Regions from separate parts of the Homo sapiens genome. Here all the other regions are linked to region 3. Evidence: fine-mapped expression QTL. A gene starts in region 3. Each other region holds a variant in brackets. All regions are shown on one strand. Distances are from middle to middle. Region 1 overlaps RAD51D (RAD51 paralog D). Region 2 overlaps RFFL (ring finger and FYVE like domain containing E3 ubiquitin protein ligase). Region 3 holds the start of RFFL (ring finger and FYVE like domain containing E3 ubiquitin protein ligase). Region 4 overlaps LOC105371742 (a long non-coding RNA gene).

Region 1 (8,105 bases), 53 kb after region 3:
AAAAAAAAAAAAATTAGTTGTGTATACTTGTGGAGGTCTATTTCTGGGTTATCTATTCTGTTCCACTGATCTGTGTCCATCTGTCCCTTGGTCAATACCACACTAGGCTTAATTATGTAGCTATATAGCAAGTCTTAACCCTGGGTAGACTGATTCCTCCAGCTATCCTTTTTCCAAATTGTTTTAGCTAATCTAGGTAAAACTGGTCTTCCCGTAATTATTAGAATAAGCTTGTCTATGTCTATAGAAAAAAAAAACTTGCTGGGATTTTAATAGGAACTGCGTTAAATTACAGATCAACTTGGGGACAATTGAAATCTTCATTATGTTCAGTCTCCCAATCCATGAACAAAGTACATGTCATCCATTTATCCGAGTCATCTTTGATCTCTTTCATCAACAATTTAAAAATTTTCAGCATACAGATTCTACACATGCTTTGTTAGACTTATACCCAAGTATTTCATTTCTCTGAAACAACTATAAATGGCATTGTGTTTTTGTTTGTTTGTTTATTTGCTTGTTTTTTTGAGACGGAGTCTCGCTCTGTCGCCCAGGCTGGAGTGCAGTGGCGCAATCTTGGCTCACTGCAAGCTCTGCCTCCCAGGTTCACGTCATTCTCGTGCCTCAGCCTCCCCAGCAGCTGGGACTACAGGCACACACTGCCACGCCCAGCTAATTTTTGTATTTTCAGTAGAGATGGGGTTTCTCTGTGTTAGCCAGGATGGTCTCGATCTCCTGACCTTGTGATCTGCCCACCTCAGCCTCCCAAAGTGCTGGGATTACAGGCGTGAACCACCACGCCCAGCCATTTTGTTTGTTTTGTTTTTTTGAGACAGTTTCACTCTGTCACCCAGGTTGAAGTGCAGTGGCACAATATCCGCTCACTGTAACCTGCATCTCCCAGATTCAAGTGATTCTCCCGTCTCAGCCTCCCAAGTGGCTGGGATTACAACCACCCACCACCACGCCCAGCTAATTTTTGTATTTCTAGTAAAGACCAGGTTTCATCATATTGGCCAGGCTGGTCTCGAACTCCTGACCTCAGGTGATCCACTTGCCTCGACCTTCCAAAGTGCTGGGATTACAGGCATGAGCCACTGCGGCCGGCCAATAAATGGTAGTGTTTTTTATTTTAGTTTTGACATGTTCACTGTGAGTATAGAGAAATGCAGTTGATTTGTATGTGTTGGTCTTGTATCCTCACTAGTCCTAGGAGTTTGTAATTATTTGTTATTTGCTTGTTTTTGTTTGTCTTGCTCATCTAGCTGAGAGCACCATGGGGCAAGGACTGGGTCCGATCCCTGTCGCATCCCCAGCACTAGCACAGTGCCTGAAACACAGGAGGCACCCAATAATCATTCCAGAAAAATGAGTAACAGAAAGGTGCTATCACTTTTATTTCGCTTCTGTATCATCAACACTGGCTGTGAAAGACTTGGGATAAACCTCATGACATGCCAATTCCTAAACCAGGTTCTCTCCCTCAACCACATGAAACAGGTCACCACCTACCCTCCATGCCCTGCCCTATCTCTAGGCTGAAGTTTCTTCTATGCCACGGCCTGTACCAATGCCTGATCACATGCGTACCTTTCCTAGCCCTACAATCACCTTCCTAGGTTCCAGTCCTTGAGATGGTTCTTGATGACCTCCCATGACCTCTCTGTATATGCCGAACAGCACTTTAGTAAGCATCCCATCCATTTTTTTTTTCTTTTTGAGACGGAGTCTCGCTCTGTCACCAGGCTGGAGTGCAGTGGTGTGCTCTCGGCTCACTGCAACCTCCGCCTCTCGGGTTCAAACAATTCTCCTGCCTCAGCCTCCCGAGTAGCTGGGATTATAGGCACCCACCACCACGCCTGGCTAATTTTTGTATTTTTAGTAGAGATGGGGTTTCGCCATGTTGGCCAGGCTGGTCTCAAACTCCTGACCTCAGGTGACCCACTCGCCTTGGCCTCCCAAAGTGCTGGGATTATAGGCATGAGCCACCGTGCCTGGCCCCCAACCATTTTAATTCCAGGGACTCCCCATGATTATACCCACAGGTTCCTGCCAGTCAAAACACTCTGGTTACCACTCTAGCCCTGTGGCTTCTTGAGATAATTGTGCTCACCCCATCTCTGTTTAATAAGTATCCAGCCTCTACCACTCCTGATTCCATTCTTCCCATTGAGATCAGAGGAACCCCAGTGTGGTCCCCAGACCAGGTGCATCAGCAACCTTTAAGGACTAGCTAGAAATGCAAATTCACAGCTCCGCTCCCCAAGACCTACTGAATCAGAAACTCTGGGAATGCAGCCCACACTTGAAACTTGAGTTTCAACAAGGCCTCCAAGTGATTTTGAAGCCTGCTCAAGTTTCAGAACCATTAGACTAGAGTAGTTAGTCTCAATCCTGCCTGCACATTAAAATCAGGGGAGTTGGCTGGACGCAGTGGCTCTCGCCTGTAATCCTAGCACTTTGGGAGGCCGAGGCGGGTGGATCACGAGGTCAGGAGATCGAGACCATCCCGGCTAACACGGTGAAACTCCGTCTCTACTAAAAATACAAAAAATTAGCTGGGCGTGGTGGCGGGCGCCTGTAGTCCCAGCTACTTGGGAGGCTGAAGCAGGAGAATGGCATGAACCCGGGAGGTGGAGCTTGCAGTGAGCCGAGATCGCGCCACTGCACCCCAGCCTGGGCGACAGAGCAAGATTCCGTCTCAAAAAAATAAAATTAATTAATTAAATAAAATAAAATCAGGGGAGTTTTTTAAAAAATGCCTATGTCAGCAGTACCCAAAGTTGTCTGCACATTGGATTCACCTGGGAGCTTCAAAAAAATACTGATGCCTGGCCAGGCATGGTGGCTCATACCTGTCATCTCAACACTTTGGGAGACAGAGGTAGGATTGCTTGAGCCCAGGAATTTGAGACCAGCCTTGGCAACACAGCAAGACCCCTGTCTCTACAAAAAAAAAAAATTTTTTTTAATTAGCCAGGCATGGTGGTGAGCACCTGTAGTCCCAGCTACTTGGGAGGCTGAGGCAGGGAGACTGCCTGAGTCCAGGAGTTCAAGGCTGCAGTGAACTATGATTGTGCACCACTGCACTCCTGCCTGGGCAACAGAGCAAGACCCTGTCTCTAAAAAACAAATTAAAAAATTAAAAAATACTGATGCCTGTGTCCCACTCACAGTGAATGAGATTAATTGGTCTGGGGGAGACTTGGACTTCGTAATGTTTAAAAGAGTCCTCAGGTGACTCCAATGGGCACACAAGTTTGGGAACCACTGACCTAGACTAATTAAATTAGAATATATAGAGTTGGGACCAGAGCATGAATATCTCAAGTTTCCCAGATGATTCTAACGTGCAGCTGGGGTTGAAGCACTGGTGTTGACTCTAGTCAAGAATCAACCACATCCTTGGCTGTGGAGATCAGTCTGTATAAGGTATTCCCAAATCCACCTTCCAGCCAACTTCTCACCTGAGTTTCCATTCCGTGCCTCTCCGACTGCCCAGAGAACCTTCCTACCAATATGTCCCCATCACCTTTAACTCCGCATGTCAACAGGGAGAGACCCCTGTCTTGCCCCATGAAGCAGAAGTACACCTGGGTTTTACCACTGCCTAGAATACAGGTGATTTCTGGGACTTATCCTCTGCCTTTCCCTCTGAACTGCCTTTTAGCCATTCTTTCAGTCATCCATTCACACACCACTTCAATGCCTCATATTTCCTGACAGTCTTATTCTAAAATGAGGGGACTGTGGGATGAACAGACCTAGCTCTGGCCTATAAGGAATAATCAATCTCCCTCATCAACATAGCTTTTCCCAAAGTACGTTACATGCTATAACACCCTGTAAGGAATCATTGCACCTCAGCACTAAAGGTTCTGAGGCGGCCTACAACAGAGAAACCTGTTTAATTTGGATTAGTCAGGCATTTCTCAAACTTCTGACTACAGAACTCCCCTCCTCCCAAGTTTTAAAGTTACACCATTAACTGTCCACAGCACACGGTAAGAAAGGCTAGAGACTGGGCATGGTAGCTCACGCCTGTAATCCCAGCACTTTGGAAGGCCAAGGCGGGCGGATCACGAGGTCAGAAGATCGAGACCATCCTGGCCAACATGGCGAAAGTCCATCTCTACTAAAAATACAAAAAATTAGCTGGGCGTTGATGGCACGCACCTGTAGTCCCAGCTACTCGGGAGGCTGAGTCAGGAGAATCACTTGAACCCTGGAGGCGGAGGTTGCAGTGAGCCGAGATCACGCCACTGCACTCCAGCCTGGCAACAGAGTGAAACTCCGTCAAAAAAAAGAAAGAAAGAAGGAAAGAAGGAAAGGAAGGAAGGAAGGAAGGAAGGAAGGAAGGAAG[G/GAA]AAGGAAGAAAGAAAAGGAAGAAAGGAAAGAAAGAAAGAAAGAAAGAAAGAAAGAAAGAAAGAAAGAAAGAAAGAAAGAAAGGCTAGAAACCTGGTGAGTCAGCTTTGATTCTTCACAATACATTCCAAACTCCGACAAAAAAAAAAAAGAAAGAAAGAAAGAAAGGCTAGAAACCTGGTGAGTCAGCTTTGATTCTTCACAATACATTCCTCCTGGTAGTAGGTCTTGTCACAGTTCCTCTTCAACATGTCTCCCACTGTTCTAGACTGGACTCACATACCCCAGGCCAGCACTGCCAGGGCCCTGCTTGGCCTCTGCCACCCTTCCACCCTGCACACCTCTACCCCACTGTCTATAACCCTGCTTTCACAATGGCCTCCCGCCTCCAGGGAGACAGCCGGGCAGATGAGTTAAGAGCCGCGTTCTTAGACTTAGGAGTGTGACAAGCATGAACTCAAATAACTGGTCTGCCGTTTGCTAACTGCACAATCTTGAACAAGTCATTTAACCTGAGTCCCAATTTCTTCACCTATAGAATGATGATTTATTTTTATTTTATTTTATTTTATTTTATTTTTTTGAGATGGAGTCTTGCCCTGTTGCCCAGGCTGGAGTGCAGTGGTGCGATCTCCGCTCACTGCAAGCTCCGCTTCCCGGGTTCATGCTATTCTCCTGCCTCAGCCTTCCGAGTAGCTGGGACTACAGGCGCCCGCCACCACGCCCAGCTAATATTTTGTACTTTTAGTAGAGACGGGGTTTTACCGTGTTAGCCAGGACAGTCTCGATTTCCTGACCTCATGATCCGCCCACCTCAGCCTCCCAAAGTGCTGTGATCACAGGCGTGAGCCACTGCGCCCGGCCTAGAATGATGATTTAAACAGTAACATGCTCATTGGTGGTTGTGACGAATAAATGAAATAATGTACCGTGAAGTGCTGACCGCAGTGCCTCGTTCATCGAAAGCATTCAGCGAAAGTCCATCTGTTCCTCCATGCCCAAGTCCTGCCTTCTTCAGAGCATTCCTGACCCCACTCCACGATCTCCCTGCGGGGACCTGAGGCAGCTGCAGTCCTCCCAGGTTCCCACTTGAGTGCGCCCTCCATGTCTGTTGGATTTATAAACTCCCTAAGCCCAAGGCCAATCGGCTTCCTGTTCACCACTCCCTCCTTACCGTTGCCTCCCTCGGTGCTTACAGCTCTCTTGTATTCACTTGATTTTCCCCTACACCCAACTAGAGGCCTTAAGGGCAGGGGCCTTGCCTCATTCGTGTATGTATCATCTGCACATACCAAGCACCCAGCAGGCCCTTAGCCAGTGCTTGATGGATCACAGACTCAGACCCCCAACCAGGGAAAGCAAGCACCACACTGCATGAACCCTGCCAAGAGAATGTGTTAAGGAAACAGAAAGGGCCACACCAATCCAAAGACCTTTATGGTGGCAGTTATTCATCAATTTCTGAACAAACAGACCAGGAAAAAGGTCAAGACTCACTTGGCCAGCAAACGTCTGTCGTCTTTGCAACTCTTCCCCAACCCACCAAACAACGTGGCGGGACATAACTGCTCCTTTTTTTTGAGAGAGTCTCGCTCTGCCACCAAGGCTGGAGTGCAGTGGTGCGATCTTGGCCTACTGCAACCTCCACCTCCCACATTCAAGCAATTCTCCTGCTGCAGCCTCCCAAGTAGCTGGGACTACAGGCGCCCGCCACCACGCCCGACTAATTTTTGTATGTTTAGTAGAGACGGGGTTTCATCATTTTGGGCGGGCAAGCAGGCCAGGCAGGTCTCAAACTCCCGGCCTCCAGTGATCTGCCGCCTCAGCCTCCCAAAGTGCTGGGATTACAGGTATGAGCACTGCATCTGGACCGCAACTCCTTCTTTCTCTGAACTCTCCTGTTCTCTACTGCTGCAGATGTGGTGAATAAGTTCTGGGCCACATACTCCCGCGCTTGAGCCTCACCTTTGCCACTTGCTCCTCTTAGGCTAAACTCAAGTAGGGTTAATTATCTCTAACTGGTAGAGTCACTGAAGAGATTACCTAGAACATACAGGTAATGCCTGCACATAGTAGGCACTCAGTAAATGTTCTCTCTTGCCATATCCTTAAGTAAAATAAGAAGTAGGGCCAGAGAAGATGGTGAAAATAATGAGATACTGACAGCTTGTGTTATAGGACAATGCTTCTCAACCAGAGGCAATTGTGCCTCCCAGGGGACATTTAGCCATGTCAGGAGACATTTTTGATGGTTACAACTGGAGCAGGGCTGGTGCTACTGGCATCTAGTGGGCAGAGGCCAGAGATGCTGCTAAACATCCTACACTGCACAGGACAGCCTCCACCCCCCAACAAATAATTACCTGTCCCTAAATATCAATAGTGCCAAGGCTGAGATACCCCATAACCCTGTTATAGGATAAGAATTCAGATGTCCTGACCCCTTTCCTTCCCATCCATTATTGGTTAAAAAAAAAACCCCTCCCGTCTAGACTCAAGCATCAAAAGCAGAGCTGAGAGGAGGCCCCATCCTCCTGCCTCTCTCCTTCTTCCCCAAGTACACACACAAACCTGCCAATGCCAGTGGACAGGATGGCAGTGGAGGTCTTCAGTTCCTCGTAGAGATCAGCGCCATTCACGGGGAAAGCCGAGAACTGAGCCAGCAGCACCCGCCTCAGGGCAACCAGGGCCTGCCAAAGGGCCCCAGACTGCTCAGCAACAAATTGCCCGTAGAAGCTGGCATCCCAGGGTGTCATTCACCCTACTTCTCAATATCTGAGAACCCTCTGCTCCCTTTGGCTTGGGATGGACTTTTGTTATTGTTGTTGTTTCAGACAGGGTCTCACTCTGTCGCCCAGATTGGAGTGCAGTAGCACGATCTCGGCTCACTGCAACCTCTGCCTCCCGGGCTCAAATGATTCTCCTTCCTCAGCCTCCCGAGTAGCTGGGATTGTAGGCGTGGGCCACCACACCCAGCTAATTTTTGTATTTTTAGTAGGGACAGGGTTTCACCATGTTGGCCTGGATGGTCTCGAACTCCTGACTTCTGACTCCAAGTGACCCACCCGCCTCGGCCTCCCAAAGTGCTGGGATTACAGGCATGAGCCACCGCGCCCAGCTGGCTTGGGATGGACTTTTTAAAAAGACACTCAGGTTTGGAATGTGGAGATCAGGAGCTCACCTTGTAAGACAAGCCACATTTCTGAGCTACCTCTTCCAGGTCTGCAGAAACCAGGTCCACCACTGAAAACAAAACACGTATAGCGGATTGGCAGAGAGGACTGGGGCCTCCCACACTTGGTTTTTCCTCATCTGTCAAATGGGGTGTCAATTCTACCCCCCGGCAGGCCGTCTCAGGAGGCCAGTGTGAAATAACAAAGCTGCAGGAGCCGGCGCGGTGCCCTGCACACAGTAGGAATCTCTACCCTGTTTTAGAGCTTGGCTCCCCACGCCCACCCTTCCTGAGCCTCTCCAGAAGCGCGGCCCTCTAGGAATGGAGGGGAAGCGCCCTGCAGGTATGCCAGGGCAGTGCGCCAGCCCTCGGGGCCTGCCCAGGTTGTGCGAGGCCCGCGCGGCTCCCTGGCACGCGCACACCCGGTCACCTGTCTTGATCCTGTGGCTCCTGAGAAGCTGGATCATCTCCTCGGTAAGGCCAGGGCACAGTCCGACCCTGAGCACGCCCATGTTCCCCGCAGGCCGGAACAGCCCCAGGGGGACTGCACGTCACGTGGGCATTCGCGG
Region 2 (8,106 bases), 21 kb before region 3:
AGGTGTTAAAAACTCTTCTTTGTCATAATGGAAGTACAAATTATGACCACAAAGTGTTACCACCACTGGAATAGCTAAAATGAAAAAGAGATACTAGCAAATGTTGATAAGGATAAAGAGCAACTGGAGCAGACGGGCATGGTGGCTCACACCTGTAATCCCAGCACTTTGGGAGGCTAAGTCGGACGGATCACCTGAGGTCAGAAGTTCGAGACCAGCCTGGACAACATGGTGAAACCCCGTCTCTACTAAAAATACAAAAAATTAGCCAGGCGTGGTGGCACATGCCTATAATCCCAGCTACTCAGGAGGCTGAGGCAGAAGAATCGCTTGAACCTGGGAGGCAGAGGTTGCAGTGAACCCAGATCGCACCATTGCATTCCTGCCTGGATGACAGAGCAAAACTGTCTCAAAAAAAAAAAAAAAAAAAAGGAAAAAAGAGCAACTGGAACTCTAATATTGCTGGTGGAAGTGTAAATTACTCCAATTTGGAAATTTTGTGTGTGTGTGCGCGCGCGTGCATATACACGCGCACCCACATCTCTTTCCATGGCTTTGCAATTCTGCTTCCAGGCATATACCCAACAGAAATACATTCACCCAAACAGTATACAGGAATATCCATGGAAGCCCTACTGTAATAGCCTCAAGCTGGAAACAACTGAAGTGTCCATCAACGGTAGAATTATGATATGTTCACAGAACAATGAGAAAAAACAAACAACTGATACATGCAATAGTACAGATGAATCTTATGTTGAGCAAAAGCAGGAGGCATAAATGAATACATGGGAAATGATTCGTTTTACATAAAATTCAAAAACAGGCAAACTATGGTGTTCAAAATCAGGATAGTGGTCATCCTGTGAGGTAGGATTACAGATGGAAGGCAGCCCAAGGGGCTTCTGGTAACATTGTTTCTTACTCTGAATGCTGATTATGTAGATATGTTGACTTTGTAAAAATTCATCGAACTGTACACTTATAATTTATATACTTCTCTAGTTACATTTGAATTAAAAGTTTATATGAGTGTTGTGTTTTGTTTTGAGATAGGGTGTCTCACTCTGTTGCTCAGGCTGGAGTGCAGTGTTGCGACCATGGCTCACTGTAACCTGGACCTCCCAGGCTTACGTGATCCTCCTGCCACAGCATGCCGAGTAGCTGGGACTACAGGCGCGCACCACCACACCTAATTTTTTGTATTTTTTTGTCTAGATGGGGTTTCATCAAGTTGCCCAGGCTGATCTCGAACTCCTGGGCTCAAGCAATCCACCCGCCTCAGCCTCCCAAAGTGCTGGGATTACAGACATGGGCCCCTGCACCCAGCCCATATGACAGATTTTTTTCTTTTCTTTTTTTTGAGACGCAGTCTCGCTCTGTCGCCAGGCTGGAGTGCAGTGGCGCAACCTCGGCTCACTGCAACCTCCGCCTGCTGGGTTCAAGCGATTCTCACGCCTCAGCCTCCCGAGTAGCTGGGATTACAGGCACGTGCCATCACACCCAGCTAATTTTTGTATTTTTAGTAGAGACGGCGTTTCACCATGTTGGGCAGGATGGTCTTGATCTCCTAACGTCATGATCCGCCCACCTCGGCCTCCCAAAGTGCTGGGCTTATAGGCATGAGCCACAACGCCCAGCCAATGACAGATTTTTTAAAGCACCTAGTCAAATATTTGTAATTTGTAAAAAATAACAAAAAAATAAAAAATAAAACCCCATTTTGACCCCACATTCTCCCCCTCCCCAGTAAAGCTCTTTTTCTGTGATCTCCTCTAAATCAAATTTCTCCAAATATTTGACTCCACTTTTTTTTTTTGAAACGGAATTTCACTCTTGTTGCCCAGGCTGGAGTGCAATGGCACGATCTCAGTTCACTGCAACCTCTGCCTCCCGGGTTCAAGCAATTCTCCTGCCTCAGCCTCCCGAGTATCTGGGATTACAGGCATACAACTCCATGCCCAGCTAATTTTGTATTTTTAGTAGAGACGGCTTCTCCATGTCGGTCAGACTGGTCTCAAACACCCAACCACAGGTGATCTGCCCACCTCGGCCTCCCAAAGTGCTGGGATTACAGGCATGAGCCACCGCATCTGGCCGACTCCACTTTCTTAACCTCTAATTCACTCTTAAACCTTCTCCAATCTAGCTTGAGCCAACCACCATTCCTAATCTCTTCAAGGTCACCAAGGAATTCCAAGTGGCCAGATCTAATTGACACTTCTCTATCCTCATCTTAATCTCTCAGCAATGCTGGACACAAGCGACTCTCCCCCTCTAAACATCTCTTAGCTTCTAGCACTCTGCCCCCGTGGCTTTCCTCCTACCTCAAAGCCTTTTTGCTGCTTCTTACCCCTCCCTCTGTTCTTAAATGTTGTGAGTGTCCAGGCTGTCTTAGGCCTCCCTCTCCAACCACACCTCAGGTTGCTTTAAATACCTTTCTTGGCCGGGTGTGGTGGCTCACACCTGTAATCCCAGCACTTTGGGAGGCCAAGGCGGGCAGATCACTTGAGGTCGGGAGTTCAAGACCAGCCTGGCCAACATGGTGAAACCCCGTCTCTACTAAAAATATAAAAAATTAGCCAGGCATGGTGGCAGGCACCTATAGTCCCAGCCACTTGGGAGGCTGAGGTAGGAGAATCACTTGAACCTGGAAGGCAGAGGTTGCAGTGAGCTGAGATCATGCCACTGCACTCCAACCTGGGCGACAGAGCGAGACTCTCTCTCAAAAAAAAAAAAAGTAAAAAAAAAATAAAAAATACTTTTCTTAAATCAAAGATGCATAAATTCCTACCTTCATCTCCCCTGCTCCTGCTGGTGGGTTAAAACATCATCTTTCATATATTAATCACATTTCCCTCCTTAGGCCCTTTAGATTTGTTGTTTGTTCCTTCTGCCTGGATTGGTCTCCCTAGAACTTCCTATGCTTAGCTCCTTCTTGTCATCCAAACATCAGCTTTAATGTCTTTTTTTTTTTTTTTTTTTTTTTGGTGTGTGTGTGTGTGTGTGTGTGTGTGTGAGGGAGAGAGAGATAGGGTCTCTCTCCAAGCTGGAGTGCAGTGGCTTGATCATAGCTCACTGTAATCTCGAACTCCTGGGCTCTAAGGATCCTCCTGCGTCAGGCTCCCAAAGCTCTGGGATTACAGGTGTGAGCTACCACG[A/C]CCAGCCTTTTAATGTCATTTTCTAATTTCACCATAACATTTGGTATTAGCTGATATTATTTGCTTATTTATTAACTGCTTTCCCTAACTAGAATAGAAACCCCATGAGGGCAGGGACTTTGTGCTCTACCGAATTTCCAGAGTCTAGAATGGCTTCTTGGGTAAAAGAACAGCCTCCTAACGGGTTTCCTAGCTTTAATTCTTGCCTCTATCCACCTATTTCTCCACAAGGCATCACCCACTGCCCTCCTCCCCTCAACACACACACTTAAAGCTCTTTAATGTTGCTTGTTCCTAGAAGTGATCTTCCTTGGATGGATTATCCAAGGCATCCACCCAATGAAAGAAATCATGTTAACTCTTTGTACATAAAAATGTTTAAAAACTCTTCAAAAAAAAGTTCTTTAATGGACTCCTATTGCATTTTAGAATAAAAATAATCACTTCTTACATGGTTAAAGACCCTGACCACTTCTCCAATTCATGCCGTGCTACTTTTCTCACTCGTTAACTTCAAGCCATAGTGGGCTGGTGTGTGAAGAACCGAAAGGTAGTGTGACCTTTCGGTTCTTCACACCGAGCTGGTGTGTGTAAATGGGGGAGGACTCCTCATGTCGGTGATACTTGAGATGAGACCTGAAGGCTGAGAAAGGATTTTTTTTACCGCATCCAGCTAAAAATTATAATTCTAAAATGATGGCTGGGCATGGTGGCTCACTCCTACAATCCCAGCACTCTGGGAGGCCAAGGCAGGCGGATCAGTTGAGGTCAGGAGTTCAAGACCAGCCTAGACAACATGGTGAAACCCCGTCTCTACTAAAAACACAAAAATTAGTGGTGTGGTGGCACATGCCTGTAGTCCCAGCTACTCAGGAGGCTAAGGGAGAAGTATCGCTTGAACCCGGGAGGCAGAGGTTGCAGTGAGCCAAGATCACACCACTGCACTCCAGCCTGGGCCACAGAGCGAGACTCCATCTCAAAAAAATAAATAAAATAAAATGCCAATGACCTACATGTTTCATAGGCATTACTGGCTGGAAAGCCCAAGGTCTCTCTCCTCTCTCTGGTCACCCAAAGCTTGGGTTTCTTACCACCCAACGCTCTTGGTGGGACAGGCCCTGACACAGCTGATTTATACCAACAGCATAATTAAAAAATCACAATGTCCTGAGAACTCACCTGAAATTTAAAATCATCTCTTAACTTGGAAGGCTGCTTACTTTTAAAAGTAAGTTAGTCTGGCAAGCAACTTGAACTCCTTTGAAACTGTTTACTGGAATTTTCCAGCAAACCTGCCTGAGGTACCCACCCTGACTTGTAAAGATTTAAAATGCTGGTGACAACACAATGAGCATAAAATAGGACAACTGTTGCATTTGTAAGTAAGCAGCCTGCTGAGTAAACCATACTACTAACTGGTCTCATATGCTGGGGGTGGGACAATGAAGCATGTTCTCTGTGATACTATTTCTGAGATATTTATTTTAGAATAAATAATTCGGTGGCCGGGCGCAGTGGCTCACACCTGTAATCCCAGCACTTTGGGAGGCCAAGGCAGGCGGATCACCTGAGCGCCCAGGAGTTCGAGACCAGCCCAGCCAACATGGTGAAACCCCATCTCTGCTAAAAATACAAAAAATTAGCTGGGCGTAGTGGCATGCACCTGTAGTCCCAGCTACTCAGGAGGCTAAGGCAGGATAATTGCTTGAACCCAGGAGGCAGAGGTTGCAGTGAGCTGAGATCACATCACTGCACTCCAGCCTGGCGACAGAATGAGACTCCATCTCAAAAAAAAAAAAAAAAAAAAAGAAAAGAAAAAAGAATTCAGAATACCTAAGTCATAGAGAAGACATGTATATGGTAGAACTTTAGAATCCAAGGCCTGAATTAGGATAAAGAGCCCTGCTGAAGTGGTGCATGGGCTGGACATAAACAAGGAATATTTCACAGGCCAGAACTCAGGGGAGGAAAACATTTCCAAAGCTTTTAATACTAATAGACATTTTCTATCCTCCAAGGCAGTCCTTTGGATATGGGTAACAGATAAATGCATATTTCCTAGGTAAGAATTTTATTTTAGGTCTAAAGTTTAAGAAGACAGAACAGTTGGAGAGAAAGGTGGGGGGAAAAAAAGCTGTTCCCAAGTATGTTTTACTTTGGCTTTAAAATCAGTCAGACCTGACCTTAAATCCTGGCTCTAACACTGAATAAATGAATGAGCTTGAGTAAGCTGCCACTAGGAGCTTCAGAGTAACAGGAATACATTCCCTACACCTCACAGGCTGGACATAGAGGTGGTGCTCAGTATAAAGGGGGATCATAACTTCACTGGACTTTTCAATCTTACATCAAGAGCAGAGGGCAGTGTTAGACATTCAGTAAATAGCCGTCATTATAATAAGGCATGGGCTCATGAGGATTAAATGTTTGCCTCTCTCCAAACCAGCTTCCAGAGCCTCCTTTCACACAGAGATGTCAGTAACATCAAAGACACAAGGACTAGAGCCTCTTCTCTCCTCCAGTCCCCAAGTTATACTTTAATGTAAAGGATCAAAACTTTAGACATGACATAATCTTCTGTGCTATTATTTCAGATGGCAGACACGGGGAAAATTGGGGGAGTTATTCAGAACTTGGGGTTCCTGAAGTCCTTTCTCAGAAGATTACAAAGTAAAAACATTACAAAACACCTAAAATGTGCCAAGTTAGTTGTTATGTTTGCATCTGTTGTCTTATTTAACACAATAATCCTACAAAAATCAGAATTAAAATGGTCTGATTTTTGTAGGATTCAATAAAAAGTACCTTAAGCACCTTGTAAAAAGTATAATACATAGAAAAACCATTCCTGGGACTACAGAACTTTAATTTATACATCCCATAAGTCATCTGCATTTCTAGTTTCTACAAGTTCAGGGTACCAGTGATACAGACCCCCAACCTTCTAAAGATAAAGCCTTTAACTGATATTTAAGGTGTATTTCAGTTTCTCTTCTTACTTTTGCTCCAGTTGAGATTTTTCTGACTTAATTGTCTCAACTGCAACTAATGCTCTATTTCATTGATTCATTTATTGAGACAAGTCTCTGTCACCCAGCCTGGAGTGCATTGGCACCATCATAGCAAACTGTAGCCTTGAGCGATCGTCCCACCTCAGCATCCTGAGTAGCTAGAACTGCAAATACCCACCACCTTGCCCAGCTAATTTTTTATTTTTATTTTTTTTGTAGAGACAGGGTCTATGTTACCCAGACTGGTCTTTGAACTCCTAGCCTCAAGCAATCCTACCTGGGCCTCCCAAAGTGCTGGGATTACAGGCAATGAGCCAGCGCACCTGGTCTACCCTCCTTTTAATAAGTGTTGTCAGCCAGGCGCGGCAGGCTCACGCCTGTAATCCCAGTGAAACCTTGTCTCTACTAAAAATACAAAAATTAGCCAGGCATGGTGACAGGTGCCTGTAATCCCAGCTGCACGGAGGCTGAGGCAGGAGAATCGCTTATCTGGGAGGTGGAGGTTGCAGTGACTCGACACTGCACCACTGCAGTCCAGCCTGGGAGACAGAGCGAGACTCCATCTCAAAAAAAATAAAGTAAGTGTTGTCACTGGGTAACTAGTAAATAATAATGAAAGCAAATCCTTAGTGCTCAGGGCCTTACTCCTTACTCTATCCTATTCTTTCAGTTCTTCAAACACCAAGGTTATTTTGGCTTTAGGAATCTCCCTCCCTCAAGCTATTCAGCTATTCTCTCAGCCTGGAGCACTGTTGCCACCTCACCTCCCTTACATATCATTTATTTCCTCAGGGAAACCTTTCCTGATCCTGTCTGTGCTCTCATAACATTTTTTTTTTTTTGAGACAGGGTCTCACTCTGTCACCCAGGCTGGAGTACAGTGGTGCGATCACAGCTCACTGCAGCCTCGATCTCCCAGGCTCAAGTGATCCTCCCACCTCAACTTCCCAAAGGATTGGAATTACAGGTGTGAGCCACCATGCCTGGCCTCATAGAATCTTATACACTTCCTTATAACCATAATTGATTTATCAGACTATTTAGCATGAATCTCCTGTACCTCTGGAGAACGTAAGAGGAACAACAACAGGCAAGGTCCTTGAATCTCATAATGATTACATTCTGGGGGAAAGAGCATTCTAGCAGTACTGTATCTAATCAACTGGCTAACAGTTTGTATAATTCTTTTTTTTTTCTTTTTTTGAGACAGAGTCTCACTCTGTCGTCCAGGCTAGAGTGCAGTAGCATGATCTCAGATCACTGCAACCTCCACCTCCCAGGTTCAAGCAATTCTCATGCTTCAGCCTCCTGAGTAGCTGGGATTACAGGCACGTGCCACCATGCCTGGCTAATTTTTTGTATTTTTAGTAGAGATGGGGTTTTACTATGTTGGCCAGGCTGGTCTTGAACTCCTGACCTCAAGTGATTTGCCCGCCTCAGCCTCCCAAAGTTCTAGGATTACAGGCATGAGCCACCATGCCCGGCCTATATAATTCTTTTTAAAGTATTTTTCTTCCATATTTAGGGTGTGGAAAGTGAAACAGGAAACAAGAGTAGGTCTATTTCACAGCTTTATTCTCAGCCTTAATGCCAGGTAATCAACACATATTTGTTGAATTATTAACTAATGATAACAGCAATAGAGCGCTTTTTAAAAAAAAAGGACAGAAATTCATGCTTAAAATTGCACAATTGGCGAGGCACAGTGGCTCACGCCTGTAATCGCAGCACTTTGGGAGGCTGAAGCCGGCGGATCACCTGAGGTCAGGAGTTTGAGACCAGCCTGGCCAACATGGCAAAACCCCATCTGTACTACAAATAAAAAAATTAGCTGGGCGTGGTGGTGTATATGCCCATAGTCCCAGCTACTCGGGAGGCTGAGGCAGGAGTATCGCTTGAACCTGGGAGGCGGAGGTTGCGGTGAGCCAAGATTG
Region 3 (8,106 bases):
GAGCCGAGATTGCGCCACTGCACTCCAGCCTGGGTGACAGAGCGAGACTCTGTTTCAAAAAATAAAGTTGGTAGTAATAATCCCAATCACATTGCATGCCCTTTTGCAATGTGATTTTTACCCTCTATCCTTTAGAGGTGAAGTCAATGTCCCCTCCTCTTGTATCTGGGCTATAATTGTGACTTACTCTGACAAAAAGAATGGGGCAAAAGTGATGATGTATGACTGCCAGGCCTAGGTCTTATGAGATCCTGCAGCTTCCATTATGGCCCAGCCACCATGTAAAAGAAGCTCGAGCTAGAATTTTTTTTTTTTTTTTTTTTTGAGACGGTCTCGCTCTGTCACCCAGGTTGGAGTGCAATGGCACAATCTTGGCTCACTGCAACCTCCGCCTCCCATGTTCAAGCAATTCTCCTGCCTCGGCCTCCCAAGTAGGTGGGATTACAGGTGCCCACCACCATACCCAGCTAATTTTTGTATTTTTAGTAGAGACGGGGTTTCACCATGTTGGTCAGGCTGGTCTGGAACTCCCGACCTCAGGTGATCCACTCACCTCGGCCTCCCAAAGTGCTGAGATTACAGGCATGAGCCACTGCGCTCGGCCACTCGATATAGGTTTATAAGTGATGAGAGACCAAGAAAGAGAACTCACAGAGAACCAAGATATCCCAGCCAACAGCTAGCTCCAAAGGTACAGACATGTGCAGCCTTCTTGGATCCTCCAGCTCAATCAGCATCATATGGGACAAAAAAAAATATGTCCTCCTTTCCTGAATTACTAACCCACAAAATCATAGGCAATAAAATGGTTGTCATGTTATGCCACCAAAAGTCTTCGGGTAATTTGTCACACAATAGACAACTGAAACAGTCAGAAATTCAACACTCTCTTGGGCAGTCATTCAAACATTTCCCCACTTTGATGATCAAAAAATTCTTTCTCGTATTCATCAAAATTGCTCCTCCTTCAATTTAAGACCATTTCCTCTTAAATCTTTGAAGTTCATGAAGAATAATTAATAAAAATCCCCCTGGCAAAACTATTCTTGTATTTGAAGATGATAATGAAGTTATCTCTTAGCTTTTCTTTCTCTAGGCTAAAATCTTTCCCCCCTTTTTAAAACTTATAATGATAAGACCTGTTTTTCAACCTTTTAATCATTTTAATTATCCTCTCAAGTATGAGAGACCCAAAATTGAACACCATATGCCAATATCTAACAGAGATTATTTCCTAGCTCTAATGGTTCAGCTTTTTATAATGGAATTTCTCATAGTCCCAAATATGGCATTTTAGCACTCCAAAAGTTGTGAAGTGATCTAAAAAGTTAATTACTTACTATAACTGTAAAAGGTTTTCTGCCCTTAACACTCAGCTTACTCCATTTTGGGATGACCGCTTTCACTCACCAGCCTGGTTTGATACTCCACCAGGGCAGCAGGTTTTCACAACTTCCAGATATTTGAAGTATAAAAGAAAAACCTGAGAGGTTGGAGTACGCACACCATTAATTTCAATCAAGGTCTCTAACCACAACCAGGGCCTTCCCATAGGTCAGGCAGGTTCAGAGTACCTCCTCCTCCTACCTTGATGATAAAGTGGCCTTGTAAAAGGCAAGACCGTTAGCACTTGCCTATCGAGCAAAGGCACCATTTCTGTGGAACCTGATAGAGTATATTTAACTACTATATTAAGAGACAAACCAGCTGCTTAATGCAGTGTAAGAACCATGTTTTCTCTCTGAGTCTTACCTAAATGTATATATGCTTTGGTATCAGACTAGCTTTATAATCACTGGTAAAATAGGGATAATAAATAAAGCCTACCCAACGCAAATAAAACCATATGAGGGAAATAATTTTGTAAAACACCATAAAAATGTCGTGATATTGCGGGACTAGATCTCAGCAAACCCTTTAAATCTTCAAATTAACTTTGAATGATTACTTGATGGTGGCAGGTAACACATACAAAATAAGCAGCCATGGGCTCATGTTCATCAAATAGGAATGAAAAACCATGCCATCTAACAAAAAAGCTTCTAATATTGCAAAGAATAACGGTTTGAGCCCGGAGATCCACGTCAGCCACTCTCTCTGATGGTGCCAAGCTCTAGTCCAGGGACACCAAGTTCAGTCAAAGAACTCAACAGTCTAGTGGAAGAGACAGACAGTGCTGTCTGTCAGAAAAGACAGAGAAGTCAGAGAAGATGCATATATGAACTAAGTGTCCTGAGGGATGAGTATCTTGCCAGTTAGAGAAGGGAGAGTCCATTGGGAAAAGGCAGAGTCCTAAAAGACATGGTATATCCATGGAATGTTAACATGAGAAGTTCAGTGAAGCTGGAGAGGAGAGAAATGGCCAGGGGAGAGGGAGATGAGATGGTTAACAGCAACATGTAGGAAAGAATCCAACTGTGAAAGCTTTTAGAAGTCAAGCTAAGTGGAAAACAGGGAACAAATGGCACCTTAAATGAAAAGATTAGATGTGGACTTTAAAAAGATAACTTGGGCAACAATATGGAGAAGATAGGAGCAAGGAAAGACTTATGGAGGAGTGGCCATTTGATAAGGGTCTGAACTAGGAGTTACAAACTCAAATTCCTAGAGGCAATGCAGGTAAAATGCTAAGTCTTCAGTGTGTAAGATGTCAGAAAATGGTGGTATCCGTAATCTTTGAAGAGTACAGGCCTTCTCTCTGATGGTGCCTAAAAGTATTCACACACAAAATTTTAAGCCCTTAGGCTGACTGATTGATTTTTGGGATGGAGTCTTCTTCTGTGCCTAGGCTGGAGTTCAGTGGCACAATCTCAGCTCATTGAAACCTCCACCTCCTGGGTGCAAGCAATTCTCTTTTCTCAGCCTGCTGGGTAGCTGGTACCACAGGCACTGGCCACCATGCGTGGCGTGCCTTTTTTTTTTTTTTTAAATACAGACAGGGTTTCACCATGTTGGCCAGGATGGTCTCAAACTCTTTTTTTTTTTTGATATGGAGTCTCACTGTTGCTCAGGCTGGAGTGCAGTGGTGTGATCCTCGCTCACTGCAACCTCCACCTCCTGGGTTCAAGTGATTCTCCTGCTTCAGCATCCTGAGTAACTGGGATTATAGGCACGTGCCACCACGCCCAGCTAATTTTTTGTTTTTAGTAGAGATGGGGTTTCACCATGTTAGCCAGGCTGGTCTCAAACTCCTGACCTCAGGTGATCTGCCCACCTCGGCCTCCCAAAGTGCTGGGATTACAGGCGTGAGCCACCGTGCCCAGCCTGACTTTAAACGTCCAGTTTTGACCTCTGGTAAATTAAGGCAATGACAGTGGGAATGAAGAAAAGCCACACATCAAACAGTACTCCAACAAAATCAACAGGGTTTAGCACATTTAAAGATGTGAGCATAAAAAGAATGAACAAGGCCGGGCGCGGTGGCTCACACCTGTAAACCCAGCACTTTGGGAGGCCAAGGCAGGTGGACCATGAGGTCAAGAGATCGAGACCATCCTCGCCAACATGGTGAAACACTGTCTCTACTAAAAATACAAAAATTAGCTGGGCGTGGTGGCACGTACCTGTAGTCCCAGCAACTCAGGAGGCTAAGGCAGGAGAATCGCTTGAACCAGGAAGGCAGAGGTTGCAGTGAGCTAAGATCACACCACTGCACTGCAGCCTGGGTGACAGAGCAAGATTCCTCTCAGAAGAAAAAAAAAAGAGTTGATGAGAGGATCAGAGTTGAGAAAGTACAGTACAGGCTCTTGCTCATTCTACCCTTACTGAGAACCTACTATGTGCAACGTACCATGGATACAATTCTAGCAAAGCAGACCCTGATTCTCAATACATACTATGATTGGAGTAAATACCAGGTTCTCCTGAGTACTCAACCCTGGTAAGTAAGAAGAGGCTTCATGGAAGAGGTGACTTCTAGGCTGAAACCAGTTGGCCAGATTAAGCTTGGGGAAGGTGTGTAAAAGAACGCTTACATATGCTAAGGTCTGAGGTGAAAGAGAACGTGGGCAATTTGTTGGAATTATAAGGAGCAGAAACGTAATTTGGAGGGTGACGACTACCTAGAGATATCATAGTCTGATTAGGTGAAGGACTCAAAAGTTTGGCGATGAAAAGCAGGAGGGAGATAGAGTAGTAGCCTAGTAGAATTAGAGATGAGGGAGGTTCTTCCTATTAATTCAGAAAGGAATATGGGAACAAACTCACTGATAAGACAGTGTTCTCCACAACTCAATATTTAGTTATTAGGAAGGCAACCAAATGCCTTCACTTCTTTTCCTTTAACAATGGCTTAGTTTGACTAAAGTGTTTCTCACAAGATACACACAAAAAAACAAAATACAAGAGCAAATGACGGATAAAGCTGTAAACCTAACGTTTTACTTTTCTAAGATTTATATAATCAGTGATTTAATTGGACCTAACTCCACATCCAGAACTCAAATGAAAGAAAACTTCTGGCCGGGGGCCGTGGCTCATGCCTATAATTCCAGCACTTTGGGAGGCTGAGGAGGGTGGATCACCTGAGCTTGGGAGTTCGAAACCAGACTGACCAACACAGCAAAACCCTGTCTCTACTAAAAATACAAAATTAGCCGGGCATGGTGGCGCACATCTATAATCCCAGCTACTTGGGAGGCTGAGGCAGGAGAATCACTTGAACCCGGGAGGTGAAGGTTGCAGTGAGCCGAGATCACACCATTGCACTCCAGCTTGGGCAACAAGAGTGAAACTCCGTCTCAAAAAAAAAAAAAAAAAAAAAAAAAAAAAAAACCTGACTCACTTCTGAAGACAGGATTTTCCCAGTTTCTAATGCAGCTTCATCTAGCTAATGAAACTTAAGAAAACAGTTTGAGGTTACCTGATTTTGCCAGTTTCAAAACATTGCCACGACAGAAAGCAAGCTGTCTCTAGTTCCTGTGGCTGAGGTCGCTGGAGCCATGTTCAGATGAGATCATCTCAGGAACCAAGAGCAGCGGCTTTCATGTGAAGTGAATGGTGCCGCCTGGGGATGTATCTTTGGTAAGCAAGATTGCAACACAGCAGGGAGTTTACCCAGGGCAGTGCTGACTCACGCTGGGCAAAATTTGTACTTCCCAAACAACTCAGCCTGAACCAACCGCAGTCAACTGCAACCTAGGAAAGAAGAGGCAGCTCACTGATTGTTTTAAATCAAGTGCTGATTACTGGGGGCAGGTAAACCTCATTCCCCCACTACTGGTAACTTGGCCACCTCCAGAGCCCTTACCCAAAAAGTTCCAGTGGCCAGTTTCTAAAATTTCATCTGAGAACAGGCTGGGGCTGGGGCCAGCAAGATTACTGAACATAGCAGGTTCACAGCTCTGAAGATTTCCCCAGGAGGCTGATAAATAAGTCACTTTGCATTTACAAATTAGAACATCTGGGTCAGTGGACTCAGGGAACTTGCCCAGTCATCATTAGCCAGTCAAATCATTAGGGTGAATTTTTGTCAGTTCTAACCAGGCTCATTGTTCTTTTTTCCCACTAGGCCTCCTCTGACCTCTCTATTTCTTCAGACAACTCAAGTTCTCTCATTAAGATAGATGCACTGGAATTTTTTTTTTTTAATCAGCTGCCACATTCTCTATGCTAAAGCCAAATCATTTACCATCACACCTACTGGATGCATAGGGAATACAGAAGACTATGAAAATCACCTTAACACTTGCTCTGAAAAGAGACATCCCTAAATTTATGTCAATTCTCATTTATTAGCCTGCTTATTTAAAAAATCAATCTAGAATGACTGGCTCATCAACAGCTATTAATTACTGAATTTGCCCTGACAGGCTAGAATTGACATTGGTGTTATACAAAAAAAAAAAAAAAAGATCAAGTCCTTGCTTTTTGTGTGCTTTAATTTGACAAGAGAGAAACTAAAGTTCCTATTAGATCCTTCTGTTTCCTGCTTAAAATGTATGACAGTTCCCCAAGGCCATCAGCTATTTCTTAGCAGGGCATTTGAGGCCTCTGCACCCAGCTTCGTTCATCCTTTAAGGTAGGTCTCACATGGCATGAACTCTGGATGTAGCTGCCAACTCAGCTTGTCATTCAATAATGTTAGGTTAATTAAAATGTACGTGCAGACAGAATTTGAGTTTAAAAACTATACTACTTAATTTTCTATTCAAGGGGCTAGTTTTAAAAAGTTATTTATCCAACTCACTTAATTCTCCTTAATTACATTATTCCAGTAGGATAGCCACGCTGAGCTTTGATAAGGTATTATAAAATGTTCCCTGTTTTATTTCCTCCCCTTCAGTGTTTTCCTTTCAGAAAATGGCTTTGTTTAAAGAAGTTTCCCTATAGTACATGTTAATTAGTCCTTTCTGAATGATAAACACATCTTTATAGCAGCTGACAACCATTATCTCTTCAACCACACTTTAAAAAAAATTTCTGTAGTTGATGATAAGTTACAAATTCTAGTATGAAACAACTCTCAAGGTACAGACAAATATGGAACCTCCTTCAGAAAAAAAAAAAATGATTAGAAAAGCTCCTGACCTGTTCTGTATTTGCGAACTTTAAATAAGAGGGCCGGGCACAGCGGTTCACGCCTATAATTGCAGCACTTTGGAAGGCCGAGGTGGGCGGATCACCTGAGGTCGGGAGTTCAAGACTAGCCTAACCAACATGGAGAAACCCCCATCTCTACTAAAAATACAAAATTAGCCAGGTGTGGTGGCACATGCCTGTAATCCCAGCTACTCGGGAGGCTGAGGCAGGAGAATCGCTTGAACCCGGGAGGCAGAGGTTGCAGTCAGCCAAGATTGTGCCATTGCACTCCAGCCTGGGCAACAACAGAGCAAAACTTCGTCTCAAAAAAAAAAAAAAAAAAAGAAAGAGAAAATCCAGACAGTACTATGCCCAGGAGACAGATACGAACTATATAAAGAGCAGCCTGAAGGCCAAAGGCATGGAACTCCTAAGTTGACTAAGAGAAACACCATTGAGCAAGTGAACAGAGCTGCTGCAGCTTATCATTCCCCTCTTTGGGACTCTGATACAGTTTTAACCAACTGCCCCAAATTATAGCCACACTCCATCCTAGTTCTTCCTTTTAAAGTGGAAAGGTTGAGGATTACATTTTAGAGCTTAAAAAGGTACTCGTTTGAACTAGTGGTTTCAGGCACTTGAGGATTTATGAGGTTACATGAAAATTATGAGAATATGAGGCTATGGGAGAAATAATAACTGTGGCTTTCTGACTAAGTTCTTTCAATACATTATTTTAAAATTAGCCAGGCATGGTGGCATACACCTCTAACCCCAGCTACTCTAGAGGCTGGGGCAGGAGAATCACTTGAACCCAGGAGACAGAGGTTGCAGAGCCGAGATTGCGCCACTGCAATCCAGCCCAGGCGACAGAAGGAGACTCCATCTCAAAACAAAAAACAACAAAAACAGAAAATACGTTATTTTAAAACTCAAGTAACTTAACACCCAAAACTATTTATGCTTTTTTTAATAGGGTGGTCTCAACAGATATTTAATGAGTGTGCATATGTGTATGTGCCCATTGTTTCATTTGAACAGACATATGTGATGTCATTGACATCCCAGATTTACTTTCTTTTCTGCAATAGATCTTGACATTATAAACAATAAGCAGGTTTCAAAAGAGAAATTAAAATATCCATTTCTCAGGATTCTGTAGTCTTCCAAATCCACAGAAAATTACCAAATACATACAGAAGATCTGGGAGGATGCACACAGCAGGGAGAGCACTGTAATGGGAATAAAGATCAAATAGCTATGTTTAGCTTTATCCAAATTACCCCCCAAAAATCATGAATTTTTTTACAACAAGCATATATTCAAATATGACTTGGTAGTTTAAAATTCAGTTAAAATTTTAAAGTTTGTATCACTTACAAACTGCTTTACTCTCTCTTCACACTCTTTCCTCTCAACATCTCCCTTTTATCTACTTCCCTACCCCCAGCATCCTAAATGATACTGCACATTTCTTGTTTTTAACAAAATTAATCTTACTTGTGTCCACATCCTTTTTCTAACTGAGAAGTCGGTGAATGGATAAATGCACATTTCCAGGAATCAGTGCCTGTCTCACCTTGTTG
Region 4 (8,106 bases), 200 kb before region 3:
TGCCAAGGGGACATGGGCAAGGCACTGGTAGCATCTGCCTCTCTGCTCGGACCTCACCAGACTGCTGTTGTCACCTGCCTGGAATATGCTGTGGTCTCCTAGATGAGACCTGTCTTGGTCTTGCCCCATGTGGTACATCCTCCAGCTCCAAATAGGAAACACATTCCACTTTAGCCCACACAGCAAAGAATAGACTGGGAAAGTGCCCCCTCCACCAGGAAAGACACCTTACTGAAGCCTGCAGGTGCATCCCTGACCACACAAAGGCAGAGACCACCAGGCCTAGATTCTCTCTGAATCCTCACCCTGGGCCCAAGGAGTGTCTCATGCACAGTAAGTACTCAGTGACTCTTGCTGCATTTGAAATAAAACTCCCCAGGTACACTTTGTACTGAGGGGAGTGCTTCTTCCCAAGGAGCACCCTGCTCTATGGCCCCACCTTGCAGGGACAAGGGTGCTGAGTGTTAGGTGCTGGCCCAATCCCTTCAGCGTCTGAGCCTGCCCCTGTGAGCTCCCAGGGAGTGGAGAACCCTCACAACGCAGAGGACCTGAGTGGTGGGCAGTCTTATCTAGAAGAACTGGTGGAGGACAGGGACAATGGCAGGAGTGGCAAGAGCACTGTGCTGGGGGTTGGGAGGCCAGGGTGCTTGTCCCAGCCAAGCCACTTGCCCACAGTGTGAAGACTCAAGGGGTCTGTTTGCAATGAGCACTTAGGGATGAGGAGCATGTCCCACATGAAGAGCACTGCACATGGGATGGAGGGAAGAGTTTTGACCCCACAGTCCAATTCTGCAGTTAACTTAGAAGACGTGGCCACTTGGTCATGGTCCCCTCTACTTACACCTTCTTCATTAGGAATAATTACACTGTAATAATTCTAAGAAAATCCATATAGTATAATAACACTCAAGGCATCCTATATGACATGAAGGTCCCCTCCTCCAAGAAGCCTTCCCCGATATCCCCTCTCTACCACTTCTAATGAAGAATGGACCATGCCCTCCTCAGTAGCTTGCTCTGTCCACTGTATGCTGCCACCCCAGCCCCCAGTGTGTGGTTGCCTCCCCTAGTTAACTGTGAGATCCCTGGAGACTGAGTCTTAATCTTGTCTTATCATGTGCACATGCAGGCATATGCATGCATACACACACACTACCCAGAGCTGAGCCCGGAGCGTGACTCAGAATCAGGCTCACTACATGCTGGTCAAATGCATGTCTAAGTGATTGAATTAATGAATTGATTAATAAGTGGTGTCATAATCCTGACTCGAGAAATCCTTTGGACCAGCACCTACACAAGGTTGCTGAACAAAAGCAGATAAACTCAGCTAAGTAAAGTCCTCAGCCCAGCGACTGACCCACTTGTTTCTCTCTTCCCCCTTAGTGGCCTGATGAGCACAGCTACTTCCTACCATCTTGATCCAAAGACCCTGTACAGAGCTGATGCTCCCCTAAGCCCACGAAAGAAGAGACTTTGCAGGGTTGGGATGAATCCCTAGAAGAAGAGGCACATCCTCCTTCCCCCAAAACTCTTGAGACAAAGGAAATCTCCACTCACCCTCCTGTAGTTACCTACACCAGGGGTCCCCAAGCCCCAGGCCACAGACCAGTACCAGTCTGTTGCCTGTTAGGAACCAGGTCGCACACCAGGAGGTGAGCTGCTGGCAAGAGAGCAAAGAGTTTTTATCAACAGCCGCTCCACATGGCTCGAATTACTGCCTGAGCTCCGCCTCTTGTCAGATGAGCGGTGGCATTAGATTCTCATAGGAGTGTGGACCCTGTTGTGAACTGTGCATGTGAGGGATCTAGGTTGCAGTCTCCTTATGAGAATCTAATGCCTGATGATCTGTCACTGTCTCCCATCACCCCCAGAGGGGACCATCTAGTTGCAGGAAAACAAGTGCAGGACTCCCACTGATTCTACACTATGGTGAGTTGTGTAATTATTTCATTATCTATTACAATGTAATAATAATAGAAATAAAGTGCACAATAAATGTAATGGGCTCGAATCATCCTAAAACCATCCCCACCCCCACCCCAGTCCATGGAAAAATTATCTTCCTCAAAACCAGTCTCTGGTGCCAAAGAGGTTAGGGACTGCTTCTCTATACTCTCCCTCCCTGCCCGGCACCCAGGTCAGGAAATGGACCAGGTGAACCCCATCAGCAACATTATTCAACTCCATGATTGAGAAATTCTCTCAGGTCCTGAGTGAGCTCCACAACTCGCCATTCTTAGAGGGCAGGGTGTATGTGAACCCATTTCTCAGAAGGTGAAGCTGAAGCTCCAAGAGGGACAATAGCTCTCCAAAAGCCACTCAGCAGGTGGATGGGAGAGTGGGAACCTGGGTTCCCTAACACAGCCAGATAAGATGGGAGCATCTACGCCCAAATGTGAACAGGGATTTGCCTCCTGCAGCCAGAGGTGCTGCCCAACCCCTGCCTCCCACTCCAGATTTGAAGCAAAGAGCAATAAACAGTTTGTGGCATTTCTTGCCTGTCGGAGTGTATTTCTAGCTTACAGAGGATACATGGGTTTCTGAATAATTAAGTACGATGCTTGGCATCTAGGGCCCAAGACTCCAAAAACACAAAGAACTTGAGGCAGAAAATTCCCATCAGCAACCAAGTCAGAGAGAGTCCGTGACATTTGCTCCTCCCATCTGAGGACCAGGCAGACCTGGGCTCCACTTGGGAGCAAGAACCAGTCTGGAAGGGCCTTCCAAGATGATCTGGGCCCAGCACCTCATTTCTAAACAAGAGAACAGAGGGCCAGAGAGGAGATTCACCAAGGGTCACTGAGTCTCAAGGGTGAGTCTGAAGCCCTGGAACAATGGCGAAGGTTCCAGACATTGACCCAAATACCAAGGTGGATCCACTCTACTTCTTTCCAGCAGCGTTGCCATGGGCAAGTCACTTTATTCCCCTGAATCTCAGCTTTTCCCTTCTGTCAAATGGGAACAATAAAACCTTACACATGTTAATAACCCCATCTATTCTACAGATGCGGGGGGGAAAAGGATGATGAATGTGAAAGTTATTGGTGAATTTTAGGTAGATTTCCAAGGTGAGAAGCTAGGTCCTCTTCCTCTGGGGCCCACTATCATGCTCTCTTTTCTCTCTCCTCTGCCTTCCCCTCCTCTTCTTCCTTCTCATCTTCCTCTCACCCCTGCTGCCTCCAAGAAAGGACTGAAGGACACGTTCAAGAAGCAGCAGAAAAACAAGGTTAAATTAGAATTAAACAAAGTGCCAACTTTAGAGGAGCAACAGAACTCCACAGAGAGGCGCAGCTGGTAACACAGCCTACTGGGGAAAAACACAGGATTAAAGGTCAACAGACTTAAAGTTGGTCGCATCTCAGGACAGCGAATAAACATCATCACTAGCATTGACTCACTGCTAACTATGTCCCAGCACCATGCTGAGCTCCTTACATACTTTGTCACATTCAGTACTTACAACAATCCTATGAAATAAGGTAAAGTCTTCATTTTATAGAATGAGAAAACTGAGGCTGAGAGAGGTTAAGTAACTTAGCAAAGTCACACAGCTAGTAAGTGGTGGAGCCAGGATTCAAACCAAGAGGTCTGCCTCCAAGCCTGCACGCTGAAGCCCTCTACCTGCCTGTCTCCTTAGAGCATTACAGGAGGTCTCTCTGGACCTCAGGGTCTCCATGCAGCTCAGAGACAGCAGAGGGGCCTGTGTGAGTATCCAAAGGTATAATTTACTAGAGATGGTTAAAAAAAACAAAACAAAAAAAAAGAAAGAACCAAAAAATTCCTCCCATCTCTGCCCCTGTTGAGATACAGAAAAGGGCAAGGAAAGAAGAGGAAGAAATAAGTTGAGTAACTTTTGTTTTAGCCTTTCAGCTGCATAAATCATCCCGGGGCCAGAGAACTGAAATAATTCAGAGGGAAGATGAGCACGCATTTATCACGCCCTGCACATACTAAGTGTCCCCTATTGAAGTCCAGTCTCACCACCGGAGCTAGGATACACACTGTCCCACCACCTTCACCTTTGCTCTGGGAATAAGGCCTCCAGTCCAGAGGGCTTCTTTTTCTTCCCCAGACCCAAAACTCGCTGATAGACCCCCCAGAAAAATGGTAGTTAGATAGGAATTTCAGGGGCTAAGGCAGGACTCCCCTCGACTAGGGACTCAAGTCACAAAGGCCACCAGACCAGCTTCCCACAGCCTCTATTCCCACCCTCCATCCTCCCTCTGCGATCACTCCACTCTGGAGGTGGGGCTGCCTGGAAAGACCTCAGGAAGACAGAGAATCCAGCTCTCACTCAGAGGAGCCAGGTGGGAATGGCCTTAGCAATGTCCTCCTCCAACAACCCCATTTTACACAGAGACACTGAGCCCCAAAGCATGCAAAGCCTATCAGAGGTCCCAGGGCTCATTGGGAGCAAAGCCCAGAGGCTCCTGATCGAGTGCTCTCCTCTTTCACTAACCATCCCCCAGCCTCCAGTCATGGCTATGTCATTGTCCACCAGACCCTGCACTGTGTATGTGAG[G/A]CTGAGGTGCTACAGGGCCCACCAGATCCCTGCGGCTCCTCCACCCTGGGGCTGAACTGGGAAGGTGGAGAGAGGCAGCCTGGTGCAAAGGAACCCATCCAGAGTTTCCACGCCAGGCAGGCCTGGCTTCAAATCCCAGCTTGGCCATTGTATTCATTGTCCATTGCTGTGTAATCATTATTCCCAAAATTTAGCAGCTTAAAACAATACATCTATTATCTCACAGTGTCTGAGGGTCAAGAATTTGGGTGCAACTTAGCTGAGTCCTCTGCAAGCCATGGTTTCTCACAAGGCTGCAATCAAGGGGTTGGCCCAAGGTCTGCAATCTTATTTAATGGTTTGTGTAGGGAAGAATCTACTTCCAAGCTCATTCACATAGCTGTTGGCAGGATTCCGTTTCTTGCAGGCCGTCGCAATGAGGGCCTCCGTTCCTGACCGCATGGGCCTCCCCCTCATGGCAGCTTGCTTCATCAAAGCATGCAAGCCAAGAGGGCAATAAAGAGCCTGCTAGCAACACTGATGTCACAATCTTCTGTAACCTAATCAGAAAAGGGACATCCTACCACCTTTGCGACACTGTTGGTTAGAATCAAGTCACTAGGTCCAGCCCACACTCAGAGACAGGGAATTACTCAAGGGCATAGATACCAAGGGGCAGGAATTCTGGGGTTATTGGGGGACTATCTTATAAGTTTGCCACCCACAGCCATTTCCAGCTTTGTATCCCTGGCCACCTTCCTTAACCTCACTGAGTGTCCGTTTTTCCCTCTGTAACCATGGGGATGAAGACACTGTGTTCAGCATCAGGCATGTAAAAGGTGCTCAAGAAATGGTGGTTATTATGCTTCCAAGTGGTATCAGCAGCCTAGGAGGCTAGGATAGATGTGCTGGGCTTTCGAGCAGCCAGACACACACAGGGAGACAGAAGAACCTACACACTGTGCAGGGACGGAGGATGAGGTTCATGGGCCTCCCCAGTCTAGGGGGAGAAAGATTTGCTTAAGAAGCAGAGAATCATTTGCTTAGCGGGATTCCAGAGGCAGTGTCATAGGTAGCATTTGGGGAATAGAATAAGTGGGGAACTTGAAGATGCTGGCCCAGGAACCCTGAAAGTGAGCCACACAGAGCTCCCCTATACATCACAACTGCAGGAAAAGGCCTGGGACTGCCCCCCTCAGGAACAGGGATTTGAAGTCTCAAGGAGCTGGTCTCCTTCCACAGGGATCAGCTGCTGCGGAGCTGAGTCCAGCACACGCTAGCTGGCTGATCGTGCAGGACATTCCTAGGTCAGATGTTTGCAAGCCAGGTTTGCACCAAGCACTAGATGCTCACACCACCAGCCAGTGCTTGGTGAAAGATGGTACCTATGGAGAGCAAGAACTTTCCTGGAAAGCTCTGCTTCACCCTGTTAAAACAATGATCTGATTAAAACCATAGCCAGATGCTGTAGGCCATGATCCATGGAGAAGGAAAAGAACAGAATCCTTGAGTATCCAAGCTAGTATGACCTTAGAGGACTGCAGATGGGATGTCGAGGATCTGCGAGCCTCCTGAAATTATGTACAAAATTACATGTGTGTGGCTGCACATTTTCCAGAGGGAGAAAACCTGTCCACCACATACAAACAGATTAGGAACAAAAATCCAATTTGGCCCTCCCATTTTACAGAGGAAGAGACTGAGGCCCAGGGAGTACCAAGGACTCTCCCAGGCCATACAGTTGCCTTTCAAGGGAGCTAGAGAGAGAACCCGGGCCTCCAGACTGCAGGCCAGCCCATTCCACCTTTCTTGGGCAGACTTGAAGTCTACCCTTCACTAATAAAGCATTCTCCTAATAAAGCAGCCATGTCTCTGAACAATGTTTAATTATTTTGCAAGAGAATGACTGTAATGGGCCACATGAAACTTAAAGGATTTTTAATAAAATCTCACATGCTCTGAGGGCTCCAGCTCCCTCCATGTGCCCCCCTTTGTTATTTCTCCTGATCCCATGAAGATATAGCATTTGTCACTGTTTCATTAGGAGCCACGGTGCCCCATGTTATTTATGAGTTTGCTATTTATTGAAAATTGTATTTTTGAGGGGGATAAAGGGGGAGCTGAAGTTTATCACAAAGAAGCCTTGGCAAGAAAATTAGTGACATTTCAAAGTATCCAAATCTCTGCTCCTGTAAAGACTGAATGAGTTCACAGCCACCAGATTTCAAAGCATTACTGGAAGTCCTGTTCCAGGTGGGGGGCTGACTAGGGGCTCTTTGATGCCTTGATTGTCCTTAGGAAAAGATGATGGTTTTATAATCTCCTCCTAGATCTGGCCTGCATCCCTTTTTCTTTAAAAAAAAACAAAGTCTGTTTTTATTCAAAGTCATATATGCACAAGGTTAAAAACAGTTTCCTGTTAAAATACTTCTTACTCCCTGTTCTGTCCCCCCTAGACAGCCACATCTAACTTTTTTAAATGTCTTTTCTTATATTTACCTCCATTTTTCTAAATAATATGCTTCTACTGATATTTCTTGATTCATCAATTTTAGACACAATCTATTGACTTACTGCTAGAATAGACAAGGATTTATCTCACTCACACCACCTCCATCCCTCCTGCCATATCTCTATTTTTAGTTCTTCTATTGGTTACTTTTGTGATCTTCCATCCTCTACAGATGCACTTTTTAAAGAGAATTTGTACATTGTACAAAAAGAATATTTCTACCCCCATCCTTCCCTTCACCTCACCTCTCCCACTTCTACCTCCTAATGCTGTCTGTCATCTACACTTCTACTTTTACACTGTAAAAACTGATAATATCTACATCTACTCTGTAACCACAATAGTTCTTTCAGATTGATTCCAAGAGTTGAAAATCACTGAAAAGTATTTCTATTATTGTGCCTAGGTAAAGACTGTTCACTACAGAGCCAAGTAGTGTACTATAATCACAGTTTCATTTCAGATACAAATGTGTATGTGTGTGTTTATACGTTTTGAGTTGTCTTTCTTTATTCTTTAGTCCTAATTGTCTTTGTCACATTTCCAATTTTTTAAAAGTCTTTATAAAGCCCATTCTACCGAGTTCCCCTTTTATTTAGGGACCACCACCACCCCTGCCTGCTGGAGCACTCAGTTCTCTTGCTTCAATCTGGACTGGTTGTTCTTTATGCTTGTGCACAGCTCTTCTGATTTCTATGTATAGCTTTTTGCATTCCCAGTCTTCCCCTATTTTGTTTACTCCCTTACTTATTAAAAGACATCCTCAAGTTGCTTCCTTAAAAAGGATTTATGGGAGACAGTCTATGGGTTCTTGCAATTTGAATAATGGGTTGGTGGGATGTAGAAAGCTTAGGTTGAAAATCATTTCTTTCAGAATGTGAAAGTGTCTGATGTTGTTGATGACAGTCTGGTGCAGGTCTGATTCTTGTTCCTCTGAAAGTGACCTGGCTTCCTTCTTGGAAATCTTTAGAATATTCTCTTCTCCTGTGGCTCTTTTGACTCACAATGATGTGTGAATTGGTGTGGGCTCTTTTCATTTATTGTGTTGGATGCTTAAGGGGCCCTTTATTTCTTATTTTAAGCTGGAACT

Evidence for each region.
Region 1: its variant is fine-mapped to the expression of RFFL in whole blood (INTERVAL, PIP above 0.99).
Region 2: its variant is fine-mapped to the expression of RFFL in whole blood (TOPMed, PIP above 0.99).
Region 4: its variant is fine-mapped to the expression of RFFL in whole blood (TOPMed, PIP above 0.99).

What each region holds. Positions count from the first base shown.
Region 1 is chr17:35,111,566-35,119,670 of GRCh38, forward strand. It overlaps RAD51D (RAD51 paralog D), which reads right to left. Exons shown (of 10, transcript NM_002878.4): 1 at 7,967-8,105; 2 at 7,546-7,607; 3 at 6,936-7,054. The coding sequence starts at 8,048. All of the region lies in intron 1 of RAD51L3-RFFL (RAD51L3-RFFL readthrough), which reads right to left. Among named protein-coding and RNA genes, the nearest start is that of RAD51D, 4.2 kb to the right of the region's middle. The variant G/GAA (reference allele first, on the strand shown) is at 4,367.
Region 2 is chr17:35,037,876-35,045,981 of GRCh38, forward strand. The region is part of intron 1 of RFFL (ring finger and FYVE like domain containing E3 ubiquitin protein ligase); the gene reads right to left. All of the region lies in intron 5 of RAD51L3-RFFL (RAD51L3-RFFL readthrough), which reads right to left. Among named protein-coding and RNA genes, the nearest start is that of RFFL, 22 kb to the right of the region's middle. The variant A/C (reference allele first, on the strand shown) is at 3,162.
Region 3 is chr17:35,058,715-35,066,820 of GRCh38, forward strand. It overlaps RFFL (ring finger and FYVE like domain containing E3 ubiquitin protein ligase), which reads right to left and starts at 4,993. Exons shown (of 7, transcript NM_001017368.2): 1 at 4,862-4,993. The region is part of intron 5 of RAD51L3-RFFL (RAD51L3-RFFL readthrough); the gene reads right to left. RefSeq lists enhancers at 4,544-5,743, 4,830-5,625, 5,075-5,174 and a silencer at 4,765-4,834.
Region 4 is chr17:34,860,920-34,869,025 of GRCh38, forward strand. All of the region lies in intron 2 of LOC105371742 (a long non-coding RNA gene), which reads right to left. Among named protein-coding and RNA genes, the nearest start is that of CCT6B, 96 kb to the right of the region's middle. The variant G/A (reference allele first, on the strand shown) is at 4,526.